3 separate regions of the Homo sapiens genome follow, and all the other regions are linked to region 2. Evidence: fine-mapped expression QTL. A gene starts in region 2. Each other region holds a variant in brackets. All regions are shown on one strand. Distances are from middle to middle. Region 1 overlaps TNFRSF8 (TNF receptor superfamily member 8). Region 2 holds the start of TNFRSF8 (TNF receptor superfamily member 8). Region 3 has its middle 16 kb from the start of MIR7846.

Region 1 (9,974 bases), 43 kb before region 2:
TCAGTAATAAAATGGGACTAGGTTGGGCGCGGTGGCTCACGCCTGTAATCCTCCCAGCACTTTGGGAGGCCGAGGTGGGCGGATCACCTGAGGTCGGGAGTTCGAGACCAGCCTGACCAACATGGTGAAATCCCATCTCTACTAAAAATACAAAGTTAGCCAGGCGTGGTGGTGGGCACCTGTAATCCCAGCTACTCAGGAGGCTGAGGCAGGAGAATCGCTTGAACCCAGGAGGTGGAGGTGGCAGTGAGCCGAGATTGCGCCACTGCACTCCAGCCTGGGCAACATGAGCGAAACTCCGTCTCAAAAAAAAGAAAAAGAAAAATGACTGAGGGTCGACCCTTCGCCATGGAGACCAGGAGGGCATCAGATGGACACGTGCAGAGGCTGGCCAGCTGAGTCGCAAGTGTCACAACAGCAGAGTGGGACCCATTTCCCTCTGACAAACCAACGTAGAGGGAAATAGAGGGAGAGATGGGGCACGGGTGTCCGGCACAAGGCAGGCCCTCTGCACTGCTGGCAAATGAATGAGCCCTCTGGTGTCTACCTCTGCCCCTCAATGCTTTCAGCCCTAGATCATACCTTACCACCGTCTTCTCTCCCCACCAGGAAAAGACCACAGATCACTGCCCGCCTGCTCCAAACACCCCCACTCATGGGCCATCCACCAATCGAGCACCCCAGGGAGACGACCCACAGCTTCATGGGGAAATTACCTGGATCTGAACTAGGCCTTCCCACAGAGGAGGGAGAGTCGGGAGCCCTCGTCAGTTTAGAAGCAGCTTCCTGGGCGAGGCGGGTGCCCCCTCTTACAGGCATGGTGCTGGCACTGGAGGTTGCTGGGGACACCGGGGTGGGCTTGGCCTGGGGGATGGTGCCACTGGGGAAGAAGCCAGAGATGGGACTGATAATTCTGCCAATGGGGCAAGGGAGGCCTGTGCTCACGAGTAACAGTTTCCACAGAGATGGGGTCCCAGGCCCTTGGCCCACTGCCTCTGGCGGGCCCACTGTAAGCTCCTGGGAGCAAGGCCTGTGTTTTCTAAGCCCTGTGGGTCTCCCATGTGCTCAGGGCAGGGCTGGGCACACCCTAGGGCCTCAAATGATCTGAGGGGCTTGGCAGAGAGGCACCCCAAAGTGCTGACACCATGGGCTGAATCCCGCTTACACCCCCAGCCCAGTTGTACCATGGGCGTCCTGTGGGGTGGGGCAGCCTCATCTGAAAGCCAGCTTGGGGGAAGAGGAGGAGGCAAAGCCAGGGAGTCACCTGGAGGGTTCCTTGCAGTTCTCTGGGCTGGCACAGGCAGGGCTGACCCCTGGGGAAGCCGGCTCACAGACCGTGTTCTTCTGCGCCGTGCCTGCAGGGGGGACAGCAGTGCCTTCAGAATCAGTGTTGGGGACCCAAAGTCTCCCGGAATACACCCTTCACTACCACAGGCCAGAGTCGGAGATGGGGCCCTTGGAAAACACAGCAGTCATCTGGAGGTGGCACCCGCCTGGCACCCGTTCCCCTTCAGAGTAAAGCAGCCTATCTTTCCCTGGGGAATTACTCTCCCTCTGATCTCAGCATCTGTGGTTAGGGGTTGGGACCGACTGAACCCCCTTTCCCGAGTGGCCATGAGACCAGGCTGGACCAATCAATCCGTTGCATTCCTCTGGCCACGATGAGCCAGTTCAGGGACGGACATGTGACCCAAGCCTGTGAGGTAGAATTTAAAGATTCTGGTTTGGGATTTAAAGGTTTTGGTTTTGGATATTAAAAATGTAAGAAAGGGAAGCTGTCTTCCCACTGGCGCTGGGCAGAGCTGCTTGTAAGTATCTTGCCGATGAACCAACAGAGAGGGAAATAGAGGTGAGAGATGGGGCAAGATGGAGCCCTGGATCCAGCCATGCCTGAAGCTTCTCAGAGCTATCCCCAGACTTTTAAGCTACATGTGCTAAAAAATTGGGGATTTTGCTACATGCAATCCAAGGAGTCCTGAAGAATGCTGGACAGAAGCAGAGTGGAGAAGAAAACACACACATCGTCTAGCCAGTGCCCCTCAGTTTGCCTGCTATGTCCTAACTGTGCCAGGAAAGTCCATTTTATTTACTTGTTTATTTATTTATTTGAGACAGAGTCTTACTCTGTCGCCCAGGCTGGAGTGCAGTGATGCAATCTCAGCTCACTGCAACCTCTGCCTCCCAGGTTCAAGCAATTCTCCTGCCTCAGCCTCCTGAGTAGCTGGGATTACAGGTGCCTGCAACCACGCCCGGCTAATTTTTAGTAGAGACAGGGTTTCGCCATGTTGGCCAGGCTGGTCTCGAACTCCTGACCTCAGGTGATCCACCCTCCTCAGCCTCCCAAAGTGCTGGGATTTCAGGCATAAGCTGCCGTGCCCAGCCCAGTCAAATGACTATAATCATACACTCTTCACCAGGCTGTCGTCAGGATAAACAGAAGAGTGCACGTGAGGTGCCCATCACATTGCATGACATATGGTAAATGCTATGTCCTTACACCCATCTGGACTCCCATCCCAACACTTAGAAGGTGACCCGTATGTCGCCAGGCACGGTGGCTCACACCTGTAATCCCAACACTTTGGGAGGCCGAGGTGGGCGGATCATGAGGTCAGGAGTTCGAGACCAGCCTGGACAACATAGTGAAACCCCATCTCTACTAAAATTACAAAAAATTAGCCGGGCATGGTGGCAGGTACCTGTAATCCCAGCTACTCAGGAGGCTGAGGCAGGAGAATCACTTGAATCCGGGAGGCAGAGGTTGCAGTGAGCTGAGATCACACCATTGCACTCTAGTCTGGGTGACAGATCGAGGCTCCATCACAAAAAAAAAAAAAATAAAAAAATGGTGGCCTGTATGTGTGGGACTTCGCTCTGAAGCTTTCCGTGGAGGTGAGCGCGAGCAATGCTGACCTCTCGTGTTCTGTGGCATGGTGGAGTGATGACACCTAAGCTTAGACATTTCCTGCTCTGTCTCCGCGGGCAATTTACCTCCCATCTCCGGACCTCGATTTCCACACCTGGAAAATGGGGCTAATACTGTCTGTCTTATGGAGACGTGAGAATTTCAGGAGAGACAGCCAGTGAAGGCTCTTAGCGTGGGGCTTGGCTGACTGGAGGCAGAAACTGCTTTCTATTTTACAGCTGGAAAAAAAACAACAACCCCGGAGAGCTGCCCCATGGGTGAGTCCACAGGGGACCCCAGAGATTAACCAGGGTTTGGCAGCTGAGATTAGAACACTTCTAAAACAGTGCTGTCCAACAGAGATATGCGAGTCACACAGGCCAGCTCAAATATTCTGGGAGCCACACTTTAAAAGGTAAAAAGAAATCAGTGCAATTAATTTTCATTATTTAACCCAGTATATCTAAAATATTACCATGTTTGCAGGCAATCAATATAAAAAATAATTAATTATATTCTTGTTTATACTAAGTTTTCGAAATCCAGTGCATATTGTACACACAGCACTTCTCAATGCAGACGTATCTGCATTTTTTTTATTTTTTATCGGATTTTTTTTTTGAAACAGAGTCTAACTCTGTCGCCCAGGTTGGAGTGCAGTGGCACAATCTCAGCTCACTACAACCTCCACCTCCCGGATTCAAGCAATTCTCATGCCTCAGCCTCCCAAGTAGTTGAGATTTCAAGCACCCGCCACCACACCTGGCCAACTTTTGTATTTTTAGTAGAGACGAGGTTTCACCACATTGGCCAGGCTGGTCTCAAACTCCTGACTTCAAGTGATCCGCCTGCCTCAGCCTCCCAAAATGCTGGAATTACAGGTGTGAGCCACCGCACCCGGCCCCTAGCTGCATTTTAAGTGCGTGGCCACGTGCCACGGGCCAGGGGCACTGCATTGGGCAGCTGGGGTCCAGGGGCAGCAAAGGGAGGCCTCTGGCGCCGCTGTGTGGCAGTCTCAGGAACACTGCCCAGACAGTCCCTCCAGCAGGAAGCCTTGGCTGGAACAACTGAACTCAAGATGTTTTTCACAAAGATGCAGAAGTTTCTGAGCTGGAAACTTTTGGGAAGTTTGGCCTTTTTGGAGAGGCCCCCAAGGCCTTCAGTTATACCTCCTCATTTGAGAGATGGGGAGACCGAGGTCCAGAGGCGGGTGGGAACATGCCCCACAGTTGCAAATCTTTGCAAAATCCTAGGTATCTGCTGCCCAGTCCACTCCAGCACTCTCCCCTGCTTATGGGTGGAGGCCTCCATCATTCCTTAGCAGAGCGCTCTCCCCCGACCCTGGAATTTGACCAGATTTGAACTCCACCCCCCCACCAGCTCGGAGCTCCCTGTCAGGTGTCCCCATATCTTAATTCAATGAATCTCTATGGGGAGCAGGTGCCATGCCTAGCATTTGATCAGGCAGTGGGGAGATGTTGATGGACACCAGGGGCATGGTCTTTGCCCTCAGGAAGCTTCCAGCCAGGGAGGGAGACAGACATTGATCAAGCCAAGAGACAGAGAGAGGTATGTATCCACATTTGCAAAGGACACAGTGCTACCAGCTTCCCTAGTGAGAGGCCAGGGAAGGCCTCTTGAGGAAGTGGGGTGGAGAGCTCAGGGCTGAGTAGGATTTGACTAAGTGAATGGGGAGGGAAGGGTGTCTCCGACAGAGAGAACAGCACGTGCAGAGGGCGGGTGGGACAGAGAAGCACACACGTCCTCCAACCTGGAAGAAGGGCAGCGCAGGTGGAGCCCAGAGAGTGAGGGCTTGGTGCTGAGAGCTGAAGCTGGGAGAAAGGAGGGGGCTGTGTTGGGATCACATCCTGAGACTCTGATTCTGGGAAGATGGCTTAGACACGTTTTCCCCTCATCCTCCCGCCAAGAACCGCTAAAAGCCCTGGACATTATGTACAAAATAAATGTAAGAAGGCTCTGAAACATGAAGAGAAGAAGGCAGGTCAACTGGGGGCCTTGGGACCTGAAGGACACCGTGGTGAGTCCCTGGAGTTTTCTTTTTTTTTTTTTTTTTTTGAGACGGAGTCTTGCTCTTGTCACCCAGGCTGGAGTGCAATGGCTCAATCTCAGCTCACTGCAACCACCGCCTCCCAGGTTCAAGTGGTTCTCCTGCCTCAGCCTCCTGAGTAAATGGAATTACAGGGCACCTGCTGCCAGGGCTGGCTAATTTTTGTATTTTTAGTAGAGATGAGGTTTCACCATGTTGGCCAGGCTGGTCTTGAACTCCTGACCTCAAGTGATCTGCCTGCCTTGGCCTCCCAAAGTGCTGGGATTACAGGCGTAAGCCACCACACCTGGCCTTGTGTCCTTATCTTTAGAGTAACAGGAAGATACTGAAGCATTTCAGGTATATATCCGTGTGTGTGTGTGTGTGTGTGTGTGAGACAGAGAGAGAGTGAGTGAGTGAGAGAGAGAGAGAGAGAGAGAGGATCAGATTCAGATTTGGTCTTGCAAGGGTCATTCTGGCTGTCTGCCATGGGGGCTGTATAAGAGAAGGTATTCGGGGTGAGAAGGTGGGGAAGATAATTGGAGGCCAAATCTACAGGACTCGAGGATGGGCTGGCTGTGAAGGATGAGGGAACGAGGGAAGGATAAAAGGGGCAGGCAGTGGTAGC[G/A]ATGGGGGTGACTGCCAATCCCCAGGTTTGCACAACAGGGCATGGGACTCCAGAGAAGGACCTGGTTGGGGGAGGGACCACAGGCACTTTGTGGCACTTTTCTCCTCAGTGGACAGTGGACACAGGGCTGCCTCTGAGCCCATCTCCCCGGCTCCATACAGTCTGCAACTGCGGCAGCCACTCTGTGCTGTGCTCCAAAGCCCACCCACTCCTCATGCCTCCCTTCTGGAAGATGGTCCCAACTCCACCCAGACAGGTTCTGTGGCCCATACCCCTTCTCTGGTTAAAAGCAGCCCTGACACCTTGTACTATCAGAGAAGTAGAAGTCAGAGAGGTAAGAAACTTGTCTGAGGTCACACGATAAGTTGGAAAAGAAACCCAAGTTTCTCAAGTCTTGAGCCTGGGGCCAGATCTCTCAGCACCTCTAACTCCCAATGCCCTGAACCTGAAAGGGGGAAGCCAACCCCAATCTTCTAGGAAACTCCCAGGACAGAGACTTGAGGTTCCCTTCTTGTTTATGGGGCATCAGATAACTTCTGCCTTGAGCCTCAAACCAAAGCAAGACCTCCTCCAGCCAGGTCTATGCCAGGGGACAGCAGGGTCTCTCTGCACCTGGAACACAAGGTGGGGGAGGGCAGCAGAAGGGCTGGGTGCTGGGTACATCCCTGGCCCATCGCCAAAGGAGACATGATCTGTCCAACAGTCTCCGGGAAGCGGGAGGTCGGAAGTCAACAGTGCACTGGGGTGGGCGGAAGGTGCAGCAGCAACAGCATAGATCTCTGTCCTGAGTTAAGGGTGGGGACACTGACCTGGGAACTTGACAATCATCCCTGCCGGACAGACAGAATGGAAGAAGCAGCGGGCACAGGAGTTGACGGCAGACGTGGAACAGAACATGCCGGGTCGACATTCGCAGACACGGGAGGAGTTCCATGCACACGGCGTCTTCTCCACGAGGTCGTCTAAGGGACACAGACAGGGGTCACAGAGGGGAACAGAAGGAAGGCGTCTCTCCAGATAGCTCTTGAGATGAGGGGGAGAGGGCAGGTGCAGTCCGCAACGCAGCCTCCGCCTCCCAGCTCAACCCCCTGGTGACCACTAAAATTGGATTAAAAATTAAATTAATGTACCAATTTTTTAAAATGCAAAAAAATAAAAAAAAGACATGGAGGAAACTTAGATACATATTGCTAAATGAAAGACACCAGTCTGAAAAGGCCACACACTGTCATTCCAACTACATGACATTTCTGGAAAAGATGAAACTATCGAGACAGTAAAAAGATCAGTAGCTGCCAGAGGTTCAGGGGGAGGGAGAGGTGAACCAACGAGCTCAGGACACATTTAGGGCAGTGAAAATATTCTGGATGCCACGGTGATGGTGGGCACGTGGTCATCATCCGTTTGTCTAAAGCCCTAGAATGGGCAACACAAAGAGTGAACCCTGCTGTAAACTATGGACTTCAGTTAGTAATAATAATGCATCATTATCAGGTCATCAATGCTAACAATTGTGCCACACTAATGCAAGGTGTTCGTGACAGGGGAGGCTGGGTGCAGTGGCTCACGCCTTTAATCCCAGCACTTTGGGAGGCCGAGGCAGGAGGATCATTTGCCCTCATATGGCGACATAGTGAAATCCCATCTCTATAAAACATGGGCAACATGGTGAAATCCCGTCTCTACAAAAAAAAAATACAAAAATTAGCCAGGCATGGTAGCACATGCCTGTAGTCCCAGCTACTTGGGAGGCTGAGGCGGGAGGATCGCTTGAGCCCAGGAGGTTGAGGCTGTAGTGAGCTGTGATTGCACCACTGCACTCCAGCCTGGGCAAAAGAGTGATACCCTGTTTCAAACAAAAAATAGGGGAAACTGTGGGAGATTGGGAAGGGGGTTGAGGGTATATAGGAACTCTGTATTTTCTGTTCAATTTTCCTGTAAACCTAAAACTGCTCTAAGAAATAGTTTATTAATTTTTTTTTTTTTAAGACAGAGTCTCACTCTGTCACCCAGGTTGGAGTGCAATGGCGCAATCTCGGCTCACTGCAACCTGGGTTCAAGTGATTCTCCTGCCTCAGCCTCCTGAGTAGCTGGGATTACAGGCACACACCACCACGCCCAACTAATTTTTTGTATTTTTATAGAGACGGGGTTTCACCACGTTGGCCAGGATGGTCTCAAACTCCTGACCTCAGGTGATCCACCCGCCTCGGCCTCCCAAAGTGCTGAGATTACAGGCGTGAGCCACTGCACCCAGCCAGAAATAGTTTATTAATTTTTTTAATGGACAAAGGACTGGAATAGACATTTCTCTAAAGAAGATACACAGCTGGCCAATAAACACATGAAAAATGTCCCACACCGTTAGCCATTAGGGAAATGCAAGTCAAAATCACAGTGAGATACCACTTCACAACCACTAGAATGACTCGAATCAAAAAGACAGATAATAACAACTGCTGGCAGGAAAAGCAGGAAATCACAGGTTGGTTAACAGACATAAAAAGTACAGCTAGGCGGGGAGTGGTGGTTCACACTTGTAATCCCAGCACTTTGGGAGGCCGAGGTGGGCAGATCACCTGAGGTCAGGAGTTTGAGACCAGCCCGGCCAACATAGTGAAACCCTGTCTCTACTAAAAATACAAAAATTAGCCAGGTGTGGTGGTGCACACCTGTAATCCAAGCTACTGGGGAGGCTGAGACAGGAAAATCACTTGAACCCGAGAAGTGGAGGTTGCAGTGAGTTGAGATGGCCCCACTTCACTCCAGCCTGGGCAAAAGAGCGAGACTCCGTCTCAAACAAAACAAAACAAAACAAAAATAGCACTGGTAAAACTAATAATTAATGTGTAACAGGCCTGGAGACCAAGAAGGGGCAAGCTTGGCAGATCAGAAACGAAGACAACTCCCCGAAATACGGAAGGCAGAGGACAGATAAGATCAGAGTGAAGGAGACCACAGCCCAGAATGCAGCCAAGGGGGACTCTCTGAAGAAGGGGGAAAGGCTCTGGATAGCTCCTCATCACTCATGCCACAGAGCCAGAGGCCACGCGTCTTCCCGCAAAGAGACTGTTGCAGCCCCACCTGAGCCCCATTGCCCTCAGAGGTGGGTTTCAGAAGCCCCATTCGCAGACCACCGGCATCATGAGATATGATGTGCACAGAACTAGAAGTCGCCAAACATCAGAGGAAAACCAGCGCCAAGGAAGAGGAGCTCTGAATGCAAAGAGCACTAACACTCAAGGAGGCAGAAAAGAGGGAAAACAGAACAAAACATTAGAAATGATACCTTCACGCACCACAGAGCAACATTTCAGTCAACAATGGATGGCGTACATGATGATGGTCCCACAAGATCATAATGGAAGCCGGGCGCGGTGGCTCACGCCTGTAATCCCAGCACTTTGGGAGGCCGAGGAGGGCGGATAACCTGAGGTCAGGAGTTCAAAACCAGCCTGGCCAACATGGTGAAATCCCGCCTCTCCTAAAAAAAATACAAAAATTAGCCAGGCATGGTGGCGCATGCCTGTAATCCCAGCTACTTGAGAGGCTAAGACAGGAGAATCGCTTGAACCCAGGTTGCAGTGAGCCGAGATTGCGCCATTGCACTCCAGCCTGGGCAACAGAGCAGGACTCCATCTCAAACAAAAAAAACAATAAAAGAGATTATAATGGAGCTGAAAAATTCCTATTGCCTAGTGATGTCATAGCCACGGCAATGTCGTAGCACGTGCGTTACTCCCATGTTTGTGGAGATGTTGGTATAAACAAACCTACTGCCCTGCCAGTTGTATAAAAGTGCTGCATAGCACATGCAATTATGGATAGTATGTAATACTTGATAATGATCATAGAAAGCTATATTGCTGGTTTACGTACTTACTGTACTATACTTTTTATCATTTTTTTTTTTTGAAACAGGGTCTTGCTCTGTTGCCCAGGCTGGAGTGCAGTGGCATGATCACAGCTCACTGTAACCTCAACTTCCTGGGCTCAAGCCATCCTCCCACCTCAGCCTCCTGAGTAGCTGGGACTACAGGCGCATGCCACCACACCCAGCTAATGTATTTTATCTTGTGTAGAGATGGGGATCTCACTGTGTTGCCCAGGCTGGTCTCAAACTCCTGGCCTCAAGTGATTCTCCCAGCCTGGCCTCCCTAAGTGCTGAGACTGCAGGCATCAGCCACCAAGCCGGCCTTATCATTATTTTAGAGTGTACTCCTACTTATTAAAACAAAAGTTAACTGTAATACAGCCTCAGGTAGGTCCTTCTGCAGGTATCCAGAAGAAGGCATTGTTATCATAGGAGACGATACTCCATGCATGTTACCTTACCGCTCCTGAAGACCTTCCAATGGGACAGGATTCTTTTTTTTTTTTTTTTGAGACAGAGT
Region 2 (9,974 bases):
TGGCCTCCCAAAGTGCTGGGATTACAGGTGTGAGCCACAGCGCCCGGCCCCAGCTAAGATACTTTCATGAGAACCTTCCTGGTCCCAGCCTGCACACTAACCCAGAGCAAAGATGCTTACATCTGGCTGGAATTGGGGGTACATGGATGTGGGAGGAAGGCTTGTTTAGCCTTAGCACTGGCAAGGAACATGATGTTGGGGAATTTCTAAGTCTACAGAGTTCACAGGAAAGCTGGGGCTTCCCCCGCCCCGCAACCCCACCACATGGTGCCTGGATGAAAAGGATGGAGCTATGGGGGAATAAATTTTTCTCTGCAGATATGCACCAGTTAATCCTGGGTCATATTACAAAAAAACACAATTGGACAAGACAGTGATACGAAGCATCAGAGGCCAACTCTCAGATGGTGCCAGCTAGCAAGAAAGCATTCCTGCCTCAGAATACCAGGCGAAAAATGATGGCGTCTTGGGAAAAATCAAATAGAGATGAAAAAAGAACTTCAGGATGGGCACGGTGGCTCACGCCTGTAATCCCAGCACTTTGGGATGCCGAGGTGGGAGGATCACTTGAGGCCAGGAGCTCGAGACCAGCCTGACCAACATGACGAAACCCCATCTCTACTAAAAATACAAAAATTAGCTGGGTGAGGTGGCAGGCACCTATAATCCCAGCTATTCAGGAGGCTGAGGCAGGAGAATCACTTGAACCCAGGAGGCAGAGGTTGCAGTGAGCTGAGATTGCGCCACTGCACTCCAGCCTGGGAGACAAAGTGAGACTGTCCCAAAAAATAAAAAAAAATTTAGGCCGGGGGCGGTGGCTCACGCCTGTAATCCCAGCACTTTGGGATGCCGAGGTGGATGGATCTCCTGAGGTCAGGAGTTCAAGACCAGCCTGGCCAACATTATGAAACCCCATCTCTACTAAAATACAAAAATTAGCCAGGCATGATGGCAAGTGCCTGTAATCCAAGCTACTAGGGAGGCTGAGACGGTAGAATCACTTGAACCTGGGAGAGGGTGGTTGCAGTGAGCCAAGATCGTGCCACTGCACTCCAGCCTGGGCAGCTGAGGGAGACTTCATCTCAAAAAAAAAAAAAAAAATTTTAAACTCAAGGAAATTCAAGCCCTAATTTGGGATTTTTTTTTTAAAATAACGAGCTTCCCGAACCTTTACTGGAAAAAACAGAAGTGGGAGAAGGCTTGAGGGGCAAAAAGGAGTACTGTGTTGGGCAGGTAGTCCCTTCCCCAAGGACTCCCTGACTCCTGCCAAGAAATGACCTAGTGCCTGAGCCCAGAGAGATGCTCAGCTTCCCCGGTAGGCGAGAAATGCAAATTAAGGCAACAAGGATATAACCCTTTTCACTAATCACATTGAGAAAAATTAAAATGCTGATAAGATCAAATGTCGGTTAGGATGTGGGAAAGTTACTACTCTCTTGCACTGCTAGCGGGAGGGTAAATTGTCCAGCCACCCTGGAAGGCAGTTCGGTGGTGTCTTTTAATTTGAATGCATTTTCGCCCTGCAACCTCAGTATTCTCTTCTCAGTCTCTTGTCTAGGAAAGAATCACAGACATTTATTTCCAAAAGCATCCATATAGGGCTGTGCACTGTAGTAGAGAACAAAGAAAGAAAGAAAGAACAATGGTGGCAACCTTAGCACCCATCCATCCAGGACATAAATAAACTATGAAACATCCCATTTGGCAAAAGATCACATAGCATTTTAAAAGATAGGCAGAGGATCTGTAAGTTTCAGCATGGAAAGCTCACCAAGATGCCTCATAGACATTATAAAGCCAAATGAAGAACCATATGTACTGTAGGGTATAGTATATGGAAAACTATATATATGTCTATTAAAACAATATAAATATGGACATGCATTTATAAAGGTCTGCAAAGGAAACACACCAAATCAATTATGGTGGTTATATCTTTGAAGGGATCAGGATGAGGCGGTGTCAAAAGACTTGGCTTTATCTGTAGCGTTTACAGTTTTGCTTTGAGAATATATTTATATATTCCTTGTGCAATTAAATATATAGTATTTTTATTTTAAAAAGGGTATGGGAGGCTGGGTGTGGTGGCTCATGCCTGTAACCCTAGCACTTTGGGAGGCCGAGACGGAAGGATCACTTGAGGTCAGGAGTTCGAGACCAGACTGACCAACATGGTGAAACCTCATCTTTACTAAAAATACAAAAATTAGCCGGGTGTGGTGGCACATGCCTGTAATCCCAGCTACCTGGGAGGCTGAGGCAGGAGAATCACTTGAATCCGGGAGGCAGAGGTTGCAGTGAGCCGAGATCGAGCATTGCACTCCAGCATGGGCAACAAGAGTGAGACTCAGTCTCAAAAAAAAAAAAAAAAAAAAAAGGTTTGGTATGAGAGTTCAGGCTGTAGTGAGTTATGATCGCACTCCAGCCTGGACAACAGAGTGAGACCCTGTCTCTAACATTAAAAAAAGTGGAGGGGGCTTCACTCTACAGAAAGGAAGCACATGAGCTTCAGCTGCCAAACCAAACCAGCAAAGCCCCCCAAGCACCTCTCACATCTCTTCCTTCCCTTCATCTCCCCAAGACCTTGGCACTCCAAACTCTTACCTTCCCCCAGGTGAGGGCTTGCAGAGCTGGGACAGGGTGTCTCTAGCCAGGGCTTTGTCCCCTCTGCCCTCTTGGGGGGAAAGGGGGAATACCTCACATTGCCCATTGGAAATGGAAGAGGGCATAGTTCCTCCTTTGCTGCATAGTTCCTCCCTCCTGCCTAAAGCCCACTCTGCCACTCTCCTCCCACTGCCTAAGGTTCAGATGACTAGAATTGATCCATAGCATGGAGTCCTCTCTTCCTGTAGGATTAAAGGGGAACTGGGTCTTCCCTCTCCCCCACCGTGACCCACCGCTGGACTAACAGCCTGCTCCTTCCTTTCCCTCTGTATCATTCAGCAGGCATCCACTCGCACCTACTATGGTTCTATGCAGGGGTCCACCGGGGTCCTGGGTCAGCTGAGGGCCTCTCTCTCCAGCAGCCCCTGGGCTCCGTGAAACACGCCTGGTTACTTTGCATTCTCCCCACAGTGATTAATTTGGCGCTGGCCACTGGTAAGTGCTCAGTTTTCCTAAAGCAGTCCCCAAACTCAATTCTGAGGCAACCCACCATAGACTTCAGCCCCACCACTGACCTTCTTCCAGGGGCAAATGCCCACCACGTGCTCCAGCGAATTCAATCCACAGCGTTGCTTTGCCGGACGCGGATTGGGGAAGCTAATCCCGGTGGTCCTGCACCCTCACCCCACTCTCACCCACAGCCAACTCTCCCTCCTTTCCTTGACCCTCCAGCCAGTGGCCAGCTTAGGAAGGGGGCAAACGGGACCGCGCACACAACAGGGTAGAGCGCGGACGACCAACCTCCCATGGCTAAGGGAGGCCCCATCTGGCCTGCCCACTACTCCCACGGCCTCACCTGATCTGCCCAGGACCCCGACGGGCCCGCAGGTAGGCGGGCTAAAGAGCGCCTCCCGCGTATGGCAGTGCTCTCAGTCCAATTCACACTGAATGAATGAATCAGTCCCAGCCATCGCGGGGTGAGAAGGAGGCGCCCCCCACCACTAGCCCTTCAGCCAGCCTCCCACCTGTGGGTGCTAGCATATTCCGGTGTTCCTGCTTGTCACCCGCGCCCCCTCACTCCAGCTGGGCAGGGAACGGGGTGAGGAGTGTCCTCCCTTGCGTCCCACGCACCCCACACTGTCCGGGCTCTGGACCGCCGGCACCTCCCCAGGCGCCCGTCACCCGCTTACCTGTGGGAAGGCTCGTAGCGCCCCCAGGAACAGCAGTCCCAGCGCGGCGAGGAGGACGCGCATCCCCGGGGCCGGACGTGAGGTGGCCTGGCGGCCGGCGCCCACCTGGGAAGCGGGGGAAGCGCGCGGCGCCCACGTGCGGTCCCGGCGGTTCTCAGCCGCGCGCGTGGACTTCAGGCTCCAGCACACTCCCGCCGCGGCCACCTAGTCCGCACCCAACGCACGCCGCGAAGTCACTTCAAAAGTGGTTGTTCCTCCGAGGTTTCAGCCTTAGTTCTCCCGTATCAAATTGGTTCCAGGAACACTTAGCTACAAGCAGCGAAGAAAAAAGGGGGCAAACACGTGCAGAGATGACTCAGGAAAAGGCACACTAGGAGACGCCTCCCTTAGCTGTTTGAATGGCCCGCCCCGGATTTGACGGAACTAGTGGTCCTGGCTCTAGGGAGTGTGCTGCCCGCCGCACCTGGGCTGCGGGGAGCGGAGGCAGGCAGCTTCTGGCCCTGGAGGTGGGGACTCACAGGATATTAGGAGGCCCCAAGGGGGTTCCAATGCCCCCACCTCCACTCCTGCCCCAAGAAACGGTGAAATGTGAGTAGTTTCCTGTCCCTGACACGATCAGCCAGGACCTTCTCCCATGCCCTTGAGATTCTTTGGAAGGGACAACTGGCCTAGGGAGACTGCAGAAAAAGCAACCATCACCCACCCATCCCCATTCATAAGCATTTGCTGTAAAATGAATCAGTGAGTGGATGATAAATTGGTGGATGGATGGATGGATGGATGGATGCATAGGTGGATGGATGGATGGATGGATGGATGGATGGATGGATGGATGGATGCATAAGTGGATGGATGGATGGATGGATGGATGGATGGATGGATGGATGGATGCATAGGTGGATGGATGGATGGATGGATGGATGGATGGATGGATGGATGGATGCATAAGTGGATGGATGGATGGATGGATGGATGGATGCATAAGTGGATGGATGGATGGATGGATGGATGGGTGAGCAGCAGGTGAGTGGGTAAATGGGTGGGTGGATGGGTGGATGGATGGATGCATAGATGGATGGATGGATGGATGCATAGGTGGATGGATGGATGGATGGATGGATGGATGGATGCATAAGTGGATGGATGGATGGATGGATGGATGGATGGATGGATGGATGGATGGATGCATAGGTGGATGGATGGATGGATGGATGGATGGATGGATGGATGGATGCATAAGTGGATGGATGGATGCATAAGTGGATGGATGGATGGATGGATGGATGGATGGATGGATGGATGGGTGAGCAGCAGGTGAGTGGGTAAATGGGTGGGTGGATGGGTGGATGGATGGATGCATAGATGGATGGATGGATGGATGCATAGGTGGATGGATGGATGGATGGATGAGCAGCAGGTGAGTGGGTAAATGGGTGGGTGGATTGGTAGATGGATGGACTGAATGTTGGAGGAACTGATGGATGGTATAGATCATTTTATTTCCCTGAGGCCTGACCCTTTAGAGTTTTCTTCCTGGAGGAGGCGGCTGGCACTCTCTCCTAACAGAAATGATTCAAGCCTCCTCGTACTATGTTCTCATTTGCTGGTGAATGATTTTCCCTTCCAGTGCTTCCCCATCCCCTGGGTTTTCTCTTTGCTCCTTTTATTCCACATTCCGTGTGTCTGTGTTGAGCATCTGCTGGGTGGGCCACAGGTCAAGGGTTCTTTTGACTGATTTTGTTTGGTTTTCAGATGTGAAAGCCAAGGCTCAGAAATAGGCAGGCAGTCCTAGGTGCTCTAATTAAGGGTGGGCCAGTTATTTTCCCTGAGCCCAGAATAGCCTAAGGATACTCTGGCTTCTGTGTCTACCTTGATCTGTCCTGCGAGGTACCAGGCCTCCATCAGGTGAAGGCCCTATAGGGTAGGAGTGATAACCTCCCACCAGGAACTTCCCAGCAAGGTCTCCACAACTGACCACTCCATGCTCAACCCTCCTGGGGCTGCTGGACTCCACTTGGGAAAACTGCTCCATCATGCCCCTTCCCAAGAGACCCACTTCCAGACTCTCCTCTGGATGTACCAGGCCCAGTATCTTAGGCTGTTTGAGCTGGGACTATGTTAAACAATGAGGTAAGCAATTATGGAAGTGACCTGCCTGTGATAATGACAGAACCAGACAGGGACAGGAGGAACGCAAGACACCTGCTTCCCAGTCCAGAGCTTTCTACTACAAAAGTAGAAAAGCTGGCAGCTGGGTGACATGGCTCATATCTGTAATCCCAACACTTTGGGAGGCCGAGGTTGGAGGATCACTTGAGCCCAGTTTGAGACCAGCCCGGGTAACGTAGCAAGACCTCATCTCTATTTTTTGTTTAATTAAAAAAGAGAGAGAGAGAAGGGCTGGTGTTTTGAATAAATAAATGAACAACAGCATCAAAATAGCTTGCACAAGGAGAAATACAAATAAAAATCAATTACAAGTTTTATAAGTTTAACCTTTTTAGTAATTAAAGAAATGCAAATTCAAGCAACCTTTGATAACCTTTTAGATCTATACAATCATCATTTTTTTTTTTTTGCTTTATAAAAACAATTTTGGTAAATCCAACCCCAAAGTTGTGGTGAGACCAGAATACTCATTCATACTCTGCTGGTAAATGTTACAACCCTTTTCAGAAAGCAGTATGGCAATTTTTAGCAAAAGCCAAAAAAAAAAAAAAATGTGTACTACTTGTGAGTGGCTCAGTAATTTCACCTCAGTGAAGAAAAACTAAGGAAATAATTTAACTGGAAAACTAGAAAAAGAAAAAAGAAAACTATACAGTAACATTTCCTTATATATTATTTATAAATTTTTGAAATACTCTGAGATTCACAACAAGAAATGATTACGGAAATTGTGGTACATCCATTTAATGGAATATTGCACATCCATTAAAAAGGATAAATCTATAGATGTTGTGGAAACTTGTCTCTCCCTCATATCCTTCCCTCCATGGATTTCCAAAGAGACCTTTCTAGCACACACATCTCACCAAGACACTCCCCTGTAGAGAACCCTTGCGGAAGTATGGTGTGTGTTTTGGCAGAGGACCACGTAGAAAATTATATTATTCATTTAATGATAACAATAACAGCTACCTTTGAGTGCTTATTTTGTGCTAAGAGTTTTCAGGCATTGGTTTCTTGTATCCTCATGAAAACCCCATGAACAAGGTCCTACTTTTATGCCCATTCTGCAGGAAAGGAACCCCTGCAGTGGCTCCCCTGGGTCAGAGTCACCCAAATGCAAGGGTGCACAAGTCTGCTCACAGCCTGGCAGGGGCTGACTCCTCCCTTGTGCCTTTTTACTTCTCCTGGACCTATACTCCAGCCAAATGTGCAGCCTTCTCACCCCTGCCAGCCTTTGCCCACGCTGGCCTCCACCTGGGACGCACACAGACTCCTGATCATCTTCCTAACCTGTTCCAATGCCACCTCCTCCTTGTTGCTTTCCTGGCAGTGTCTCCTGTCCCCCAGCCCTCTTCCCAGTCAAAAAGTGGTTTCTGTCATTTTTTGTGCCGCAATTCTAGATCTGATCTCATCATGTCATAACCATAATGACTGGTTCATGCATCCCTCTGCCCCAGGAAACTGTGTACTCCTGAGAACCAGAATTCCCCCAGGGCGCCCAGGAAAGTAGCTGACACATGGCTTAAGTGGAGGGAAGGCACATTTTGTGGCCAGGGAGCCAGCTGGATCCCAGGGGGAGATGGGCTGGTAGCAACCAAGGAAAACAGCCATTCATGGGACTCTTAAAAGCAGGCAGTGGATAGAGCCCCCGGGTGCCCTCGGCAGGTTTCAGGTGGTATGAAAGTGCTGTGAAGAGTAGAAGGGGAAGTCCCTAGGCTCTGTGCAAGGCACAGCAGCAGTCCTTGTTGTGGGGTCGTGGGGCCCTCCAGAGCAAGCTGTGGAAGGAAGCCAAGCCCGAGGGGCTACAGGAGACTGGGGAGCGAGGAGCGCTTGCTCACACAGTCTCAGCTCGGTGGGCTTCTTGGAGGAAAGGTGAGGAAGGTGAATGCAGTAGGAAGCCATCCAAGGGGAATTGGGAATCTGTGTCCCCAAAGTGATGCTGAGCAAGACACAAGGTCCCAACTTGGTTCAGGAAATTCAGGGACTTCCTCCAACAGCTGGGAACCCGAGTCCCAAATGGCCCCAAAATACCCTTAGCAGATAAAGGGTTCTTTCTGGCCCAGGCAGCAGCTGGCAGGTAGGAGGCTGGAAATCAGAGAGGGGAGGCTGGGGCCTTTCTTCTTCAATAGGTCCAGGTGCACCTTTTCTTTCTTTCTTTTTTTTTTTTTTTGAGATGGAGTCTCACTCTGTTGCCCAGGCTGGAGAGCAGTGGTGCAATCTCGGCTCACTACAACCTCCCCCTCCCCAGGTTCAAGCGATTCTCATGCTTAGCCTCCCGAGTAGCTGGGATTACAGGCGAGCATCACTGCACTCAGCTGATTTTTGTATTTTTAGTAGAGACAGGGTTTCACCATGTTGGCCAGACTGGTCTTGAACTCCTGACCTCAAGTGATCTGCATGCCTTGGTCTCCCAAAGTGCTGGGATTACAGGCAAGAGCCACCGCGCCCAGCCGCAGGTGCACCTTTTCTGAGCAACTTTCTTGGGAGCCTTGGTAGCAGTAGGACTCTCCATTAGGCTTCTCTGGGTCACCCTTGGCCTCCACCAGTCCTAATCGGCAGGACCCATGTCAGGCTCCCTCCAACTCACATCCCCAGATCTCCCTGCCCTTTTGAGGCACCAACATTAGGGGTTCTCAGCTGCCTGGGTGAACCCCAGCAATGCACACCCACAAGCATGACACCCCTAGACCAAGCCTGGTTGGAAACTAAGCAAAGGGGCACTGGCTCTCCAGAACTAGGTTTGTTGTGCCCCTTCCCATGGGCAGGAGGGAAGGCTGTGAGGCCCTCGGGGATGCTCTTAAAGATTCTGCATAGTAACATTAACAGTGTCATTCATTGAGCTCCTGCTGTGTACCAGGCCCTTGGTCAGACATTTAATCCTGGCATCAAGATTTCAAGTCAGTATTGCTATCCCCACTTTATAAATGAACTGAGGCTCAGAGTAGTTAAGTCACTTGCCTGAGGTCACACAGCATGAGGGTGGCAGGGCTAGGATTTACTCCAACCCTGTCTGACTCTGAAGCCTCAGCTGCCTTCTTTTCCCTCCCCAGGCCTCTCTCACCCTTGCTTTCCCCAGGAGAAAGAGCACTGATGTATAAGTCCTGGTCTGGCCATGTGACTTTGGGAAGTCATTTCTCCTCTCTGAATGTATTATTATCTATTGCTATGTGCCTCAGAACCTAGTGGCTGAAAACAATAAACATTATATTGCGCTGTTTCTGTGAGTCAGCAATTTGGGAGAGACTTGACAGGGTGATGCTGGCTCAGGGATTGCCATCAAGATGTGGGCCAGGGCGGCAGTCATCTGAAGGCTTGAGTGGGGCTGGAGCATCTGCTTCCAGGATTAGCCACTCCCACGGCTGTGGGTAGGAGGCTTCAGTCCCATGGGGCTGCTTGAGTGTCCCCACAACATGGCGCTGGCTTCCTCCAGAGCAAGTGACCCCAAGTGAGCAAGACAGAAGTCACAATGCTTTTTATGAACTAGCTTCAGAAGTCACATTTTGTCATTTCCACAGTATTCTGTTGGTTATACAGGCTGGCTCTCCCCAGTGTGGGAGCGGACTGCACAAGGGCATGAATACCAGGGGCTGGGGAACACTGGGAGCATCAGTTTCCCCTTCTGCCAGATGTGTGTTGAAGCATGACTGGGCTGCCCTCTGAAGGTTGTAATGGGCCTTGAATAAAATATGGACATAGAAAGCTCTTGGAAATGCAAGAAAGACATGGAAAGGGCTCTACTTCCCTTTGCCCCCTCCCACTGCCTATCCAGGCCCCTGCTATGGCCCCAGACCTCCCATTCCAGAGCACAGCTAAAATGCTCATGGCTGGGGGTTCCCCTTTCTGAGAAACATGCTACCATGACATCCACTGTTCCAGCCAAGGGGTGACTCATGCAGGGCAGGCCCACAGGAGGGAACCTTGGGGGTCTGAGGCCTTTCCTGGCCCCTCAGGTGATGTCAGGTGGGTGACCACTTCCTACACCTCCATGGCCCAGCCTGCTGGTCACAC
Region 3 (9,974 bases), 88 kb before region 2:
TATAGACCACTTTAAGCAACTCCCCCCAGTCCACACAGCCAGCAGAGTGCAGACACAGAAAACAGGACACATCTCTCTACAGTAAATCTCATTATAATCTCAAACCTCTGTTTCATGAAGGATTTGCCAGGCCCCAAGGCAAGCACTGCTAGTGCAGTTGTGTCACTCAACACAAAGAGGTTCCACTTCACAGAGGGAGAACCTGGGGTTCTTCATGCGCTCTGAACACAAGCCTTTCTCCAGGGCTGGCCCTTGGAAAAGGGTGAATTATCAGGAGCCTCTAGCTCCATCCTCCATTGCTCCATCACCGGCAGTCTATGCTCACCCTGAGCCAGCCAGCCCTAGGTCTGCCGGCAGCCCAGCCAGGCTGCAAAGGCCTCACCTGTCCTATCTCCCTCTGGCCTCTCCTAAGGCAAACAGCTTTCCTGAGCCTGTCTTCACCTCACCTTCCCCAGATGCTTCCTCCAAAGCCCTCCCCAGAGGTCTCCCACCTAGACCCCCAGGCAGTTCAGATACAAACAATCCCCCACAATGAAACAGGACCCCTTCCCATTCCTGATGCTGAATTGTCGTCTTTAATGGCTCAGCTGCAACCCCACTGCCTCCTTAACGCCCTCCAGGATCTCTCCAGCCCACGGGGTTCTCTTGCCCTGGCTGCAGGTGGTCTGGCATTGGAGAAAAAGCACTGGAATGAGCTAAACCAAAGATTCTCAAAGACACTTCCAGCCATGAAACGCTTTCAAATGAAATCTTAGGCTGGAGAGGTAACAGCTTTCTCAGATTGCTGGTTCTCTGGATCTAGATCCCAGCTCTAGGGCAATAGATCAAGACCCTATCTCTAGAAAATTCAATAAATAGGGCCGGGCGCAGGTGGCTCACGCCTGTAATCCCAGCACTTTGGGAGGCCGAGGTGGGTGGATCATGAGGGCAGGAGATCGAGACCATCCTGGCTAACACGGTGAAACCCCATCTCTACTAAATATACAAAAAAAAAAAAAAAAATTAACCGGGCATGGTGGCGGGCGCCTGTAGTCCCAGCTACTCAGCAGGCTGAGGCAGGAGAATGGCGTGAACCCGGGAGGCGGAGCTTGCAGTGAGCCGAGATCACGCCACTGCACTCCAGCCTGGATGACAGAGCGAGACTCCGTCTCAAAAAAGAAAAAAAGAAAGAAAGAAAATACAATAAATAAATAAATGATTGAAGATAATTTTAAAAAACTACTCAGAAAGGAGGGAAGAAACCAAAATGTTTAAAGGAGTTTCATGGATGATGGGATTGTGTGCAATTTTTTTTTTTTTTAAGGAATACTGATTGTTTTACTTTTGTTGTTGTTGTTACAAGGTCTTGGTCTGGCTGCATCACCCAGGCTGGAGTGCAGTGGCGTGATCTCAGCTTGCTGCAAACTCCGCCTGCTGGGTTCAAGTGATTCTCGTGCCTCAGCCTCCCAAGTAGCTGGGACCACAGGCGCGCACCACCATGCCCAACTAATTTTTGTATTTTTAGTAGAGATGGGGTTTCACCATGTTGGCCAGGCTGGTCTTGAACTCCTGACCTTAAATGATCTGCCCATCTGGGCCTCCCAAAGTGTTAGGATTACTAGCATGAGCCACTGTGCCTCGCCAAGATTGTGTGTAATTTTTATTATATTTATCATATTCCTTATACTTCGTTTCTTCTTTTATTCATCTTTTCCATTTATAAAGTTTGTTTATTTTTATCTTTAAAGTACCAGCAAACTGGGTGCTTGTGCTGAGGGCCACGGATTCTCTGTGTGACCTCAGGCACATCTCTCGCCTTCTCAGGCCTCAGTTTCCCCATCTATACTCTCAGAGGGAGGGGCTGCATGAGGCTGTGAGCCCTGGGAGTCACATACCACTCGTGCACATCATCCTTGCCCCGTGCACTCGGTTTCCTCCAGGCCATGCTGCCCCCTGGGACCTACCAGCCCAGCCAGCCCACAGAGGCATAAACCAGCACATTTTTTTCTCATTAGTGAGATTTCAGCTCAGAGCAAGGGCAGTCAGGGTAGAGGCTTAGAGCAAGGACAGAGAAGGGAGTGACACAGTGAGATGGGCAGTTTCCTGCTAGACTGGACGAGACACAGCTCTGGGCCCATTTCCTTGACGCACTACCCAGCCCTCCCTAGGAAGGCAGCACGTGATACCGGCCCTCTGCTCATCAGTAAGGAGCATGAAATGCTCACCACGTCACTGACCTCATTTCCCCCGCAACATTTCCCCTCCCCAATTCAAAAGAGGAAGAAATAAGTAGTTTTTCCCTGGTGCAATTTCCCAGTCTTCACTTATTCAGACTTTTACGAGTATGTGTGCCTACTGCTGCCCCAGTGAGAGCTGGGCAGGGCTGGGCGTGGATGAGTCACAGTGGGCACACTCCCCGCAGGAGCTTGGGCAGGGTGGGCAGGCGACTTAGAAAAGGGACCAAGGCACCTTGGCTGGAGTGTCCTAGGGGCTTCTTGAAGTAGCTGGCAGTGATTCGGCCACCTCTCATTTGTCCTTCAGGTGAAGTTGGTCTTGAGGCTCTCACTCCCAAGAAACTGGACCTCCTTCCAACCCAGGCTTGTCCTGCCTGCCCCGCAGACTTACTGAGCACCTACTGTATGCCAGACGGAGCAGCTGCTGCCCCTCTGCCACCAGATCGAGATCCTGCTCCTAGACATGTGCCCCAAGGAGGAACCCAGGAACCTTTAGCTCCTAGGAATGAGTGGTAAATTTTCAAACACCAAGAAGCCTAGCAAAAAAAAGGGCTGCTTTAGACAGTTGGGGTATATCAAAAGGAGAAATAGCATCAACTTTGCCATCACCTAGACCTGGGTTCAAGTCTCTGTTCAGGCCATTGACTGGTACGCAACCATGACCTTGGACAAATCACTTTACCTCCCTGAGCCTCCATTTCTTCATCTGTAGAATGGGGATAAATAGCCTCTGCTTTACAGGGGTGCTGTAAGGATCTGAGATGGAGACTCTACAGTGCCTGGCATCTAGTAAGTGCTTAATGAGTGCAGACCCAAAACGTGATGGAGGTCATGTATTCTGCCTTTCCAGAATGGAGCCCAGGTCCCCTAGGGTACAGGAGAGGGTTTCCCTGAGAAGTTCCCAAAGTGCCCAGCCTTGCTTTTCCCCTTCACCCTGGAAGGAAACCCCCTTGGGCTCCAGTTCCCCTGCAGTCCTCCACCCGTCCTGAGGCTGTTGCAACCTCCCACCAAGTAGCCGGCTCAGCCCTGCCAGCCTACCTCCCCAGCTCCTGTAGAACAATTTCCGCCCATGAAATTCTCTCCATCACCTTGCCCCCTTTCTTCTGTAGAAACCTAGAGATGCAAATGCAAGGATGGGGCGATGTCTACCACAGACTCATGATCATAACTACTCACTTCCCCCTGCACACCCTGAATCGCTACATTCTCCCAGACCTTTGTACAGCAGGTGCTACATCCCCAAGCCCTGGCTACACACCTCACCACACTGAGGGCCTACACACCACTTTCTTTTTTTCTTTACAGCAATTACCACCAGCCAATGTTATCCCAAATACTCTTTCTTGTCACTCTGCAGAGGGCAGGGCTGTGTGTCCCCAGCACCCCAGCACGGAGTTTGAGCTTGACAAATATTTATTGAACAAATTAATGGATGAAATTAATCCTTACAACATCTCTTTGGGGTAGGTGCTCTTATTAAACCCATTCTACAGAGGGGAAAGCAGAGACCTGCCTCCATCTGGGCTAGGTGCCATCCACTAGGGTCATGAACCCCAAGCTGCTCTCCATCAAAGCAAATATCATGCTCTAGGCCATGACCAGACTCTAGGTTGGTCTCCCAGTTGGACTGTGACTCCCTGAGAGCAGTACTGTATATCCCCGCCACTGCCCCACTTCACTGTGTTCCCCAGCGCCAAGCACAGTGCCCAACACATAGTAGGTGTTACATACAGATCTGTTGCTTGAGTGACTAAATGAGTGGCTGTATGAATGAATGAATGCATTTCTTCAGAGATATTTTTTGCAAGACTTCTAGAACTTGGCCTCCAGTCCCCCTTCACAGTCAGTGCTGTGGGAGCTTGGAGGTCCTGGGCCTGGGTGTCCTGGAAGGGTTTTTGGAGGAGGAGGAGAAAGATGAGGTTGGAAATTCAGGGGTTGGAGCGCTGAGCAGAGATTTCATGATGAGGATATGCCCTCTGTATTTGGTGACTGAGCGGAAACAGTCGGGTCTCAGGAGAGGTTTAGATATGGGAGCTGTGGAGGTAGCAGCAAAGCTGGATTGGCAGACATTGGCATGTAGGCACTAGGGAGTCATAGAAGGTTCTGTGAGGGAGAGGCCTGGCCACAGCTGGGCTTTGGAAAGGAAAGGTGGGATAAAAACCAAGAGCAAATTCCATTCCCTGTGCATTCACTGAGCCCCATGGATGCCTGCACAGTGTTCTACAGGGTCTGGGACTCAGGGCTGGGGCCTCAGCACAGTGGTGACCTCGGCCTGAGCCACAATGGAGCAGCATGGCCAAGTGTGTGAGGACGCAGACTCCAGCCAGGTGGCCTGGGTTCAAAGCCTAGCTGCGCCACTTAGCAGCTGTGTGACCCTGGGGAACTGGCTTAGCCACTCTGCGTGTTGGTTTCCTCATCTGTAACATAGGGGTAATGTAATAACTACTTCCTAGTGCACTGTGAGGTTTAAGTGAGAGCACACGAAAGCCTCAAGTACAGCTCTTATCATCTTTCTTACTAACCTGTGACTCCATGCATGGCAGGAATAAAGCCTCTTCAACTCTATTGTCAAAGCCCAACCCAGATGGGCACAAAGAGCTTCTCAGGGAACTTTCGATGCATGAACTTGGCCCAGAGGACCCAGGGTCACCCAGCGAGTGCCCCGGTATTCACCAGGAGGTCTTCTGCACAGGGTGAGGAACCCTCCCTCAGTACGTGCAGAAGCTGTATTTCCTGAGTGAAGTGTAATTGCAGTGAAAAACAACATCCCTCC[T/C]GACAGCCTGTACTTGCATAATCTACCCACAACTCTATGTGACTTCCTGACATGGTTCTGTGCAACCCAAGTTGGGGGCCCCATCCTGCCCTGGAAGGTCCCAGACCCTGCCCTCTTCCTCAGGAGAGGCCTGGCAAGACCTCTCAGAGCCTTGATTTCCCTATCTAAAAACTAGATAGGGCCTAGTTTGTATGGGTACCAAGCTCAGATGTTCTCTAATCAGACAGATGTGAGCTTGCTTTCCAGTCCTGCCACATTCTGACTGTATGGGTCCCTGAATGCACAGGTCAGCTGCTCAGTCCAGAGCTCACACTCTGGAGACAGACCAGCTTGGATCCAAATTCCAGCCAGAGGAACTTGGGATTCCACCAGGTTATGTAGCTTCCTTGAGCCAACTCCAAGGACAATAATGGCAAAATTACCGAGAGGCTAAAATGAGACAGTATGTGAAGTGCTCCTGCTGACACATAAGATCTCGAGATTCTTTGACACTCCTCCTAATGAGGGGTGGGATCTGTGTCCCCTCCCCTTGAGTCTGGGCTCTGTGACTACCTGGAATGCAGCAAAGGGGATGCAGTGCCAGTTTCCGGGGTCAAATTTTATGACGCTGGCAGTTTCTACTTCCTGCCCCCGGAGTTGTTGGCTCCAGGAACCCAGCAGCCATGCTGTGAGGAAGCCCAAGAAGCTCCACAGAGAGAAACTGACAGCCAGTACCAATTTGCCAGCCCTCTTGGAGGTGGATTCTCCAGCTCATCTCATCACCCCCGCTGGTACTATGTGAGCCGAGATGCACCTCCCCTGCTAAGTCCAGGCCACATTGCAGATTTGTGAGCAAAATTAATGACCATTGTTTTAAGCTATTAAGTTTTGAGGTGATTTGTTATGTAGCAAGAGATGACTGGAACAGTTACATCAGTTACTGGTCATTTAACACTTCTTAAAAATGGGGACATGTGTGCTCATCTATAAGGTCCCTCTGAGGTCACATGACAATGGAGGTAAAATGCTTTGGCATTAAGTGAATTCTGAATTAACGATTTCCCTGCCCCCATGCAAGATCAGCTACATAATTTGTAGAACTCCATGAAAAATGAAAACACAGGGCCCCTTGCCAAAAATTATTCATCACTTTCAAGATGGCGACAGCAGAGCATTAAACCAAGCCCAGGGCCCTTCTGAACCTGGGGCCCTCTGACTGCACGGATCAGTAGCTTGTGAAGCTGCAGAAGCCCAGCTGATGGGATATTTTTGTCTACTCTGTTTACTCTTGCAAAGCTGCCTTGTAAGTAAGAACCCAACCCTCTCACCACAGTTACTTTTAACATCAATTTTTTCTTTAAAGGAAGAATGAAAATCAGCATGTCATCTTTACTGCTCCCTTGGACTAGACAGTGACTTTCCCCTACCCCAGCCCCAACTGACAGCTACAGTTAGAGCTATCTCCATCACACAGCACCAAGCTGGGACCCTGGGAAAACTGCTTTGCCTCTATGGGGCTCAGTTTTCCCATCTGTAAAATGGGAGGCTTGTTCTTGATCGTCTTCCTTCAGGGAGCCTCAGGTGGGGCAGTGAGCAGGATATGAGGTGTTACTGGGGATGGAAAGGGCAATTCCACTCTCAGGCAGTTCTCCCCCAGAGATTCCCTGGACTCAACCCAGCCCCGAGTCTCCCTGGACCTCAGAATCACACGCCTGTAATCCAGTACTTTGGGAAGCCAAGGTAGGAAGATTGCTTGAGCCCAGGAATTCAAGACCAGCCTGGGCAACATAGAGAGACCTGTCTCTACAAAGAAAGAAAAAAAAAAATTAGCCAGTCATGGTGGCACGTGCCTGTGATCCCAGCTACTCGGGAGGCTGAAGCAGGAGGATCACGTGAGCCCAGGAAGTTGAGGCTACAGTGAGCTGTATTTGTGCCACTGCATTCCAGCCTGGGTGACAGAGGAAGACCCTGTCTCAAAAAAAAAAAAAAAAAAGAAAGAAAGAAAGAAAGAAAAAAAAAATCACACACACCTTTGAGGAAAGCTGTGTCAAGGAAGGAGGCCCTGGCTGGGTTAGCTCTGTGTCCTTCCTGTCCGGTCAGAGCAGTCAGAAAGCCACACCCAGCCTGGAGTTTGACCTTGGGCAGGTTACCCTGCCTCTTGCAACTGTCCCTGCCTTCCCATAAAGGGAGGAATAAAATCAGCCTCTATTCTATCTCTCAGTTGTGGTGACTTGAAGATGAAAGGAAACTTATCTAGAAGGCATAGTGCCAGGGGATGACCACGATATGAACACAACCCCTGACCACAGAGGCAGCCAGGCCACCTGGGCATGGGGAGGGATTTAGAATCACAAAGTTGGGGGTTGAACTCCAGCTCTGGGACTTCCCAGCTGTGTGGCAGTGGGCCAGTTGCTTCGCTCCCCCCCACTCCCCGAGCCTCAGTTTGTAAAAGGGAGTGCTGCCACCCAGCCTATCTACTGTCCAGGGTTCTATTAGGAAGCCCAGATGTACAAAGAATGCGGCCTAGGCGAACTCTCAGCTCTTAAGATGCTGCTCTTGATGGCTGTCATTTACTGAACATGGCATACGTGCCCAGACTGGACTTCCACAGTCCCTCTCAGCCTTATAGTTCCTTTTCTTTTTTTTTTTGAAGACAGAGTCTCGTTCTGTCACCCAGGCTGGAGTGCAGTGGCACGATCTCGGCTCACTGCAACCTCCGCCTCCCAGGTTCAAGCAATTCTCCCACCTTAGCCTCCCAAGTAGCTGGGATCACAGGCATATGCCACCATGCCTGGCTACTTTTTGTATTTTTAGTCGAGACGGGGTTTTGCCATGTTGCCCGGGCTGGTCTCGAACTCCTGACCTCAAGTGACCCACTCACCTCGGCCTCCCAAAGTGCTGGGATTGCAGGCGTGAGCCACCGCATCTGGCCCCATTAGGTCCATTTTGCAGACCAGAAAACCCACATTGAACGCACATAAGGGCTTTGCTTGGGACCAAGCAGCTGGGAGCTTGTCGAGCCGGAAGCCACAGCTCCATGCCACCGTCATGAAATGGCCACTGCCTCCATGAGGGCTAAAGGGTAAAAAGCACAGGCCACCGCTGACCCTGTGATACTGAAATGATCCCTCTGCCTCATGACCGGGAAAACAATCACCACACCAAAACACAAACAAAGGCCTCCAGGCTTCCCAGGGTTTTTCAGTTTGGTTTTTACTCTCTGGAAGATACCCAGAGAAAGGGGGAAGCTAGACCGGCAGACTCCTAACCCTACCCATAGCTACAATCATCACCAGGAATGCTGTCTTAGTTCTTTCTGAGAAAACCCATCTAACTGCTTCCTGGCTGCCAGCAGCTGCTGCCTGTTTCCCCAACTTCCCTCCAAAATAGGTTAAAACAACCTTTGCCGCCCCTGGTTTGGCCTTTCTCACTGATTGCTGAAATAATACCAGGATGTTTATTGTTCTACTAGGAAGAAAACAGAAAGAAACATAGACCAGTACTTTTATGATAAAATCTAGGTGCCTAATCACAATGGCCCACCAGGCCCTCCTCCCCAGGCCTTCCCCCCTCACCTCCTTTTTTCCCTCGCCCACCGTGCCTCTTCCACCACTGTGTTCTTCCTGAAACTCGAGGCAGGAGTGTGCCCACTTCAGCTCCCTGCCTTCCAGACCTCGCTGGCTTGTGACATCACTCAGGCCAAGTTCAAAGGGCACCTTCTCAAAGAGGCTTGCCCTGACCACCTAGCTAGTGGTGGCCCTCCCCTCCCACTCTGCCACAGTACCTGGCTCAGACTCCTTGTGGTTCACAGCGTGATCTGACTCTGGAATGACCTTGTGTACTGATTTGATGACGCCACCGTCTGTCCCGTCCACCAGACACAGGACCCACGAGAGCAAGTCTGTGCCCCACTAGTCCTCAGCAGCTAGACCCTTTAATTGAGGAAAGCCCTCGAACAGTAATGTGGTGCAATCTGGAATGTGCTAGAACCACGAGTGAGATGTCCCTCCGGAGGGACCCGCAGCACTTCGCCGACATGCCCAGAGTTACAGACGTCGAATAATGAGCCAGTCCTATGACTGTGATCTGAAGGGTTCTTGGGGTAGCCCACAGAACAAGAAGAGGCCTGCCCACTGCGGGGCTTCCCACAGCAAGTTGGCCCCAAGGGTGGCTAGGTTCCCAGGCTGGCCTGAAAGCTCTGATTAACCTTGATGGGCTGAATTCTGCAGACATAGGAAGGGCTCGCTCTTGACAAGCGGCCACCAGGCTGGAATAAGGACAGAACCTGCCACTCAGCACAAGCCACACACCGAGTGGCATGTCAGGGAAGCCCCACAACCCCGTCAGGTAGAGACTGACACCCCCATTTCACAGACAAGAAAACTGAGTCTGAAAGAGATCATGGAACATAGCCAAGCTCATGCAACTGATAAATGGCAGAGCTGGGATTCGAGCCTGTGTGTGACCCCGCAGCGCCATCACCATCCGCACGCTGCTGTTGTGTCTGAGCTGCAGAGAATGGCAGGCAAGCCTCTCTGCCCTGTGCCTGGCTCACACCCATGGCCCCAACATTGAACACCTGCTCCCCTGGGTCAGCCAGGGGCAAGGGTTCCAGGGTGTTTGGCCAGCATGGGGTGCTGGCTTAGGAGGAGGTGCCTGGCAGAGGGGCCTGGTGGAGGGTGCAGGGGCCTGAGGTGTCCTCAGCAGCTTCTCCTTCAGCCCAAGGAGCCCCCCTTGAAGCTGAACAGTCTCGCCTTGACTAAGCTTTTCTCTTGGGCCGTGGCTGTGAATCTGATGTCCCCACATATTCTGGCCCAAGCAACCCCCACCCCACACTTGCCCCCCCACTGCAGAGGATCGAGGAAGTGGGGGGAAGAGAGAAGGCACCCGAGGAACTGTGGCTGGAGAGCCGCCTCTCATCCCCACACAGGTTTTCATTTCTACTTAGCCCAACCAATCAGTGCCCAGTGACCATGGGACAAAGATGACCAAGACCCAGCCTTGGGTCT

What was found. PIP is the estimated chance that this variant, and not a neighbour inherited with it, causes the effect.
Region 1: its variant is fine-mapped to the expression of TNFRSF8 in whole blood (TOPMed, PIP above 0.99).
Region 3: its variant is fine-mapped to the expression of TNFRSF8 in whole blood (TOPMed, PIP 0.96).

What each region holds. Positions count from the first base shown.
Region 1 is chr1:12,100,947-12,110,920 of GRCh38, reverse strand. It overlaps TNFRSF8 (TNF receptor superfamily member 8), which reads right to left. Exons shown (of 15, transcript NM_001243.5): 4 at 6,390-6,542; 5 at 1,265-1,355; 6 at 717-880. Among named protein-coding and RNA genes, the nearest start is that of TNFRSF8, 43 kb to the right of the region's middle. The variant G/A (reference allele first, on the strand shown) is at 5,581.
Region 2 is chr1:12,057,482-12,067,455 of GRCh38, reverse strand. It overlaps TNFRSF8 (TNF receptor superfamily member 8), which reads right to left and starts at 4,153. Exons shown (of 15, transcript NM_001243.5): 1 at 3,795-4,153. The coding sequence starts at 3,857. RefSeq lists silencers at 3,761-3,890, 4,478-4,710.
Region 3 is chr1:12,145,642-12,155,615 of GRCh38, reverse strand. No RefSeq gene overlaps it. Among named protein-coding and RNA genes, the nearest start is that of MIR7846, 16 kb to the left of the region's middle. RefSeq lists enhancers at 7,065-7,194, 9,048-9,127. The variant T/C (reference allele first, on the strand shown) is at 4,987.